2 linked regions of the Homo sapiens genome follow. The protein of the gene in region 1 interacts with the protein of each later gene in a pairwise test. Each region holds a gene or a part of one and is shown on either strand. Other genes may lie near its edges. The genes, in order: SCYL3 and EZR.

Region 1 (3,819 bases):
TGATCTGGCCAGTTTATCTCTTCACTCAGGCCATGAAATTGATGGCTAATTTGTGAATTAACCGCCCTTTGGCCCAGGATAGGTACCTGCCAACATTAACTGTGCCCAAGAAGAGGTGGCAAGATCAAGTGCTAAGCATAATCCTCCCTACTCAGCAGGAGGTTGTGACAATCTGGCCAGCACTCTATCTCCAGAACAGAGGGATTAGCATTGTTGCTTTTACCCATGGTCCCACATAAACTTTTTATTTGTAGTCCCAGTAGAAAGGTGAATGTTACCATAGTTGCCATACTTGGCATTTCTTTTAGTACTGTTTTTTGCTTCTCTGTCATTTTTAAGAAAGATACATTGCCAGGTAGGTAGGAATTCAGTGAATTTGTTACAAAGCAGATTTAGTTCTTATTCTCAGCAACATTTTTAGATTTTGAAAATCTTCAATTTTAGATAGCTTTAGCCTTTATACATGTGTTTCTTATATAACGATGGTTGTGGATCGGTAGGCACTTTAAATTTTGTTCTAGGCATGTGTTTTGAGCAGCATTACATACCCAGTGTAGAAGGTGTTGTATGGAATTTCACCGAAGTGGGGAAAAATTCCAAGTAGAGGGTCAATGTGTAATGATTATTGAGTTTATATTTGTCCAAAGAATACAGATTTTAAACAAATTTTTAAAGGCCTACATAGAATTATTGGCCGTATTTGTAGCAGTTTGCTTTCTACATTGCCAGAGTTAGTAAGAACTCTATTTTCTAATTTTTATATTATGGTAAAGCCACCACTGAAAACTGACTGCCACAGATTTTTCAGACATACGTTGTTTGGCCTATATAGGTTTAGAAAACATTTGATTCAACATTGAAAAATATGGAGATTTCCACAAAACTATTCAGGCTCTTGGTTCCTCACGATAAGTGGCATGATCTGACAGTTCTGAAACTGCAGTCCTGGTTGGAACTCTGTGATAGCCACTGTCTTCAGAATGCAAGCCTCTCACAGTAGGTCCCATGCACGCACAGTAGGTCCCTCTGCCAGGCTGCCAGTACTGCTGGGGCACTGCACATTACCTGTTGTCACCCTGTGAGTTTGTATCCCTGTTGTCAAGAAAGCTGTTCATATTGTAGAAGATTTGGAAGGTGCAGGCAAGTGTGTGTGTATAAAATTACCTATAATCTGACCTTCCACTGGAAACCTCTGTTAATACTTCAACATATATTTTTCAAGTCTGTGTGTATGTATACATATATTTCTTTTCAAAACAACTTTGAGGCGTAATTGATACAGAATAAATGAAAAAAGTGTACAGTTTTATGTTTTGACATAATCACCCGTTACCATCATCATCATCAAGATAATGAATATATCCATCCTCCCAAAAGTTCCTCATACATCATGATAATCCTTTCCTCTCCCTTGATCCCTCTAACTGTGCCCCTTCACTAGGTGAGCACTGAAGTATTTTGTCATAGTTGCATTTGAATTCTGTGTATGTGTGGGCTTTTGTTTTTTTTTAGCAATTGAGATTATTTGAGATTCAGTTTTGCGGTTTCCCCTTTTTACTTAGGATAGCTTTGAAGAGTAGTGCGATCGTACTTTTTCTTATGTTTATCGTCATTTGTGTTTCTTCAATGAGTTGTCTGTTTTCTTTCCCATTATTGTACTGGTGTTTTAGTGTTTTACTTGGTTTATATGAGCTCTTCATTTGTTAATATGTTTTTCATCATATTAACAATGTTTTTCAACATATTAATATTAAAACCATGATTTTCCTCATTATAAGTATTCTCCAATTTGTATTGTTTTCCTTTATAATTTTAAGTTATTTTCTACATACAGAAGTTTTATTGTTTTTGAGTAATATTTTTACAACATTTTCCTTTGTGAGTGAGGATATACAAGTGAGTTAGGAAGTATGAATTACCTTATTCTATTTTTGATTGCCTTTCCACTCTGAAAGTTTGTATGTGGTGGAGTTTGGGGAGGGACAGTAACTACCTGTGACTATTTAGTAATGTGCATTTTCTCTAGAGCTGTTAGTTGTTAATTAACAACCATTGCTGGTAACTTGCAGAGCGTTTACCATTTTTACTGTCAAATGTCCTAGTTATGAGGATCAAAGAAACTAGTAGTTTGGGGTGGCTATGTCTGGATATCTCTTGTTGATGTTGCAGATAGGGATTTAATGTTTGAAATTGTTTTCTGTTTTCTTTTAGATCTGCTTGGCTTTGAGGAAGAGTGGCAGTACTGCCTCACTGCATAAGGGATGGGATCAGAGAACAGTGCTTTAAAGAGCTATACACTGAGAGAACCACCATTTACCTTACCCTCTGGACTTGCTGTTTATCCCGCTGTACTGCAAGATGGCAAATTTGCTTCAGTTTTTGTGTATAAGAGAGAAAATGAAGACAAGGTTAATAAAGCTGCCAAGGTACCATAATAGGTGACGACTTAATAGTTAGTACTTTTTACTATCTTGTTTTCTTTTAAAAAAATATGAAATTAGTAAAGTTCAAAGGAGGTAAGATCATAAGGACCAGTATTTTATTTATGTCCTTTCAAAACATTGCTCTTACTTCATGGGCCTATCTTCCATTTGCATGACATGGTCAGGTACCATACCTGTAGCCAAAAAACATCATAAAACTCAGTACAATGGCTTTTATCATCATATTTTATTTTTCTGGTGAGAAAGTTAGGGAGACATTTTTATGTAGCTAATATAAGATATAAGGAGCTATATAAGGAGTTAATCTCGTCTAGCAAAATGCAGTTAAGTATTGACATCATTCTGGAGGCTTCAGCTTCCTCCTTAGGGAAAAGATCCTTGTAGTTCATGCCTTATAATTGTTGCTCCAGGCAGAGGGTGCCAGTGCATTAGCATGCTGTCTGACACACTCAGGAGATCCTGGCCTCTTATCAGAAAAAATGATTTTACTGTGGAATGTAAGTCAATAAAATAACCCCAAGTGTCTTTTTGAATTAGGGAAAATGAAGGCATTAGTTGATGCTTCTTTGGATAGCTAGCACTTTGGAAATTTAGGAATTCAGATATATCATCTTCTAAAATGGAAAATGTAATTGTATTAGTAAATTAATTCTCCAGTGTTTATTCTGGTAGGCATGCTATTTTCAAGTTGAACTTGATATCTTGATTTTGTTAGAATTATAATCTCTATTACCTTGAGTCCCTTAGTTATCAACAGGTATGGAACATTGATGTCTGTTTCATAGGACTCTAAATTGTTTTTATTTTTTTAAAATGATTATAAAGGATTATATTAGTAATGGAATTTTGGTCTTCACAACAGTAATTTATTTGATGTTGTATTTTTGATCAAGCATGAAATTGTTATAAGATGGTTCCTAAAGAAAAAGATGGGTAACAGTTCTCTCGAGATGCGTGGTGGTAAAAAGTATATAGCTGGCTGTTTTCTTGCTAGGTAATTTTGCTTTTTGGTAGAACCACATTTTTGACTCTTTTTTTACATCATCTAGGTATTGTTAAGAATTTTTTATTGTGATTTTACAAAAGACAAAATGCCTTACTTCGCTTTCTTGTTCTTACAGTTAATGTCTAACATGCCTCCTGTTATTTTCATCTAATAAGATTGTGCATTTTTTTTAATAAACTATTATCGGCGAGGTACTAGAGACTTATCTTTCTTAGTATTTTTTTCTTTATAAGATTTTTTTAAAATTGTGTTACACTTTATGGTGCACGTACCAAGAAAATTGAATAACCTAGATCGAGTTTTTAAAGGAAAAAACAGCAAGACCACTCTCCATTTTTGAGGACTTCTGTGCTGAAGGAATTGCGAAGC
Region 2 (3,819 bases), on another chromosome or scaffold:
GTCTCTGGGCGGTTGCTGTGGTGCTGAGCCTGTTGTCAGCCCTGGAGCGGCTGCTCCGTCAGGCAGCTCAGGCTGGCAGCAGGCTAGGGTGGCCCTCAGGATACCAAGTCCATCCTGGAGCTTCAAGTACCCGTGAAGTGTGTTGACCCCTCACTTTCCTGCCAGAGTCTAAATCTCCCTGTGCCTCTTTTTCCCTGCACCAGGCAACAGCTGGAAACAGAGAAGAAAAGGAGAGAAACCGTGGAGAGAGAGAAAGAGCAGATGATGCGCGAGAAGGAGGAGTTGATGCTGCGGCTGCAGGACTATGAGGAGAAGACAAAGAAGGCAGAGAGAGGTCAGGCGCCCTGGGGCTGGCACTCTACACTGGGTCATGCATTTCCACAGAGTAGCAGGGGCCACACCCACCCACCCACTCACCAGGAAGGAAACCAAGAACGTGTCCCACAGCGCAGACTCACAGCCGAAATGATAAAATGGTTATTTGGTTTGGAAAACAGTTCTGTACTTATTTAACTTTGATGCTAGTTGTTCTAAGACTTTGTATTTTAAAATTTCCCTAGTCTTTTGCGGTAAGTGCTCAATCACCCAGTTTCCCCGATGAGGACAGTAAGGTTTGGTGCGGTACAGTGATTTGCCCACAGTCCCCCAGCCCATGACTGACAGGGCCATGCTGCACTGCCCTCGACCTCTAGACTAAAACCCAAAGGCGTGTTCAGAGCCAGACTTCCCAGCACAGCTCCAGTCAACAACCCCAGCAGCTGGGCCGATTACACAAGGCGCCACAGATGCTGTATTCACTGGCAGCCCTTACAGCACACATGGGAAGGGTGTTCTGTGTTCTGAGTGGAGTGTGGACCACCAGCACAGCGGGCGGCTGACCTGGGGAGAGTAGCGCCAAGAGGGTTGAGTCAGGCATGCCAGAGAGAGGGCGCCTGGCTGGCGTTGGACGGGTTTCTAGCCATCTTGAGGAAGTTGTCATGGATACAGCAGCAATGAGCTCTGTGAAGTGCTTTCCTCCAGGGTCACTGGAAGACATCCCCTCAACCTGTGACTTGGTCTAGGGCTCTGTGGCTTTGGGGGTGGGAATGGAAAGCGAGGGCTCCTAGGTCCCTGGGCTGAGGGTTTGAATGGCTCTGGCTTTGTGTCTTTGCAGAGCTCTCGGAGCAGATTCAGAGGGCCCTGCAGCTGGAGGAGGAGAGGAAGCGGGCACAGGAGGAGGCCGAGCGCCTAGAGGCTGACCGTATGGCTGCACTGCGGGCTAAGGAGGAGCTGGAGAGACAGGCGGTGGATCAGATAAAGAGCCAGGAGCAGCTGGTAGGAATGGCCTGAGTTTCAAGATGCTGAATTATAGAGAGGCTGCTTCTGAGGATGGAAAATGTGACACCTGCCTTGTAATAATTGTCATGACTGGAAGCTGTAAACTGATCTGCTGGGGGGCTGAAGGCAGCTGGTGGGGAAGGGGCTGGGCTGTTGCCAGGGTCACCCATTGAAGGTGGGTGTGGGCATCCAGGAAGAGATGCCGGGGGTGCACAATGGACCCTGCTGGCCATGGAGTGGGGGTGGCGGGGACTCAGGTGTCACGTTGGAGACTGCTTGCCAACACACATGAACACTCATTCACAACTGGACTCCGTTGAAAGGATATCAGAACTGACGTGAGCTTGGCATTCCCTTCCCAGGCTGCGGAGCTTGCAGAATACACTGCCAAGATTGCCCTCCTGGAAGAGGCGCGGAGGCGCAAGGAGGATGAAGTTGAAGAGTGGCAGCACAGGGTGAGTCTGCACGGGGGACACCTCCGCACGGCCACAGCACCTGTTGCCCAATTGCCTGCGGTGGGGCCCTTCTGCAGGTGGGTGGGTTGGGGGAGAGGTCTGGCTCAAGCTGCCACATCCCACTGGAAGCTTCTGGGATGTCTCATGATCCTCTGCCAATACCAGCTGTACTACTGAAGTAGACATCCCCAAAGAGATGGGTTTGACTTTGTACACGAGTCAGTGCAGCTGCTGGATTCATAGAGGGAGGACCTCTGATTGACTTTCACCCACTTTGCTCCCTCCACCCCGAACTGTTCAGTGCTGATCTGACAGCCCCCGGTCAGGAACTGGTTTTAAATCTAATTATATATGTGCCCCTTGCAATGGGGTCGCAGTGCCTGAAACACGACCTCCTGCAGCTAGTATATACAGCGGGCACCATGGAAAGATCCAGCTCCTTGGACGTCTCCAGGCTGGAGTGAGAGCTGGGCTCTGCTGCTCATCAGCTATTTGGGGGCTAGTAGCATCACTTCTTCAAGCCTCATTTTCCTCATTGTAGAATGGGGGCAATACCCAACTCATAAGGTTGCTCTGCAGATGCGAGGTCCCATGCCCAGGACCTAGCACAGAGGTTTAGTCAGCTGTAGCTCTCATTGTGGGACGCACACAGAGCTTGTCGCTCCGTCTGGGATCCCCTGTGCCCTCCAGGAAGGCACAGCCCCTGAGAAGCTCTGGGGATGGTTCCCACTGGAGACTGCACACCAGGCTTTAAGCAGCTCCTCTCCTTCACAGACCCGCTGGCCCGTCCTTCCCCCACTGTGGCTTCTCCATCTGTGGAGGTGCCTTCTGGGGACGTGTCTCCCGGCTCTCCAGGGCTGCTGCTGCCTAGTACCTCCTTGCCTCTGTTCCAGCCCCCATTCCCGCTGCCGATCTGTATTAGGCTGTTCTCACAACGGCTATAAAGAACAAGCTGAGACTGGGTAGTTAAAGAAAAGAGGTTTAATTGACTCACAGTCCCACATGGCTGGGGGAGGCCTCAGGAAATTTACAATCGTGGCAGAAGGCGAAGGGGAAGCAGGCACCTCTTACATGAGGGCAGAAGAGAGAAAAGCAAAGGGGGGTAATGCCAAACACTGAAACCATCAGCTCTTGCTCAGAACCCACCCACTAGCACGAGAACAGCATAGGGGAAACCACCCCGTAATCCAGTCACCTCCCACCAGGTAATGCCCCCCACCCCCAGCATGGGGGGATTACAGGTGGAGATGAGATTTGGGTGGGGACACAGCCATATCACCATCCCAAGTTGCAAGCGGAAGACTTTGGTTCTTAGGTTTTTGGAGAAAGTACCTGTTAAGTGAGGAGAGCTGGCTACAAAGCAGATCCACACTAAGCTCAACTCTAGGGCTGGCTGGGATGGAGGCGGGCGGGACTGGGTGTGTGTGAAGCTGTTGGAAGGACTGCAAGTGGCGAGCAGGAGAGCACTTGATAATGACTGTGGCATGAAGGGAGGCTAGGAACAGAGCCCGTTACTCATGCTAACAGGATTTTTTTTCTAAAAATTATATAATGTCTAGAGTTACAGGTAAAAAAAGAAATGGTAGTTTTAAAACTGCCCAGGTTCCGGCATCACAGTTCCTCTTCCTGTCTTGGACGCAGAGGGTTGTAAACCCCCCATGCACCCTGAGGGTGCTCCTCTTCGAAGCCACAGCCCAGCACAGTTCAGTGCTGCCTTAGCCTGCCAGGACAGAGGGAGGTGACAGTCTGTTCTCATAGCCAGGAGGATAGGACTTCTGGGTGAGAAGTCCTCTTATTAATTTGCTTTCCAAAGGCCAAAGAAGCCCAGGATGACCTGGTGAAGACCAAGGAGGAGCTGCACCTGGTGATGACAGCACCCCCGCCCCCACCACCCCCCGTGTACGAGCCGGTGAGCTACCATGTCCAGGAGAGCTTGCAGGATGAGGGCGCAGAGCCCACGGGCTACAGCGCGGAGCTGTCTAGTGAGGGCATCCGGGATGACCGCAATGAGGAGAAGCGCATCACTGAGGCAGAGAAGAACGAGCGT

What was found.
Region 2: the proteins of SCYL3 (region 1) and EZR interact in binary tests that used the Homo sapiens proteins (3 or more experiments, as listed by UniProt).

Annotation. Positions count from the first base shown.
Region 1 is NC_000001.11:169,887,283-169,891,101, reverse strand, and holds part of SCYL3 (protein-associating with the carboxyl-terminal domain of ezrin), read left to right. Parts: intron 1-2,211; 5' UTR 2,212-2,261; coding exon 2,262-2,426; exon of another isoform or gene 2,427-2,452; intron 2,453-3,819. UniProt on the Homo sapiens protein: May play a role in regulating cell adhesion/migration complexes in migrating cells.
Region 2 is NC_000006.12:158,767,279-158,771,097, reverse strand, and holds part of EZR (ezrin), read left to right. Parts: intron 1-203; coding exon 204-334; intron 335-1,153; coding exon 1,154-1,314; intron 1,315-1,679; coding exon 1,680-1,772; intron 1,773-3,585; coding exon 3,586-3,819. UniProt on the Homo sapiens protein: Probably involved in connections of major cytoskeletal structures to the plasma membrane. In epithelial cells, required for the formation of microvilli and membrane ruffles on the apical pole. Along with PLEKHG6, required for normal macropinocytosis.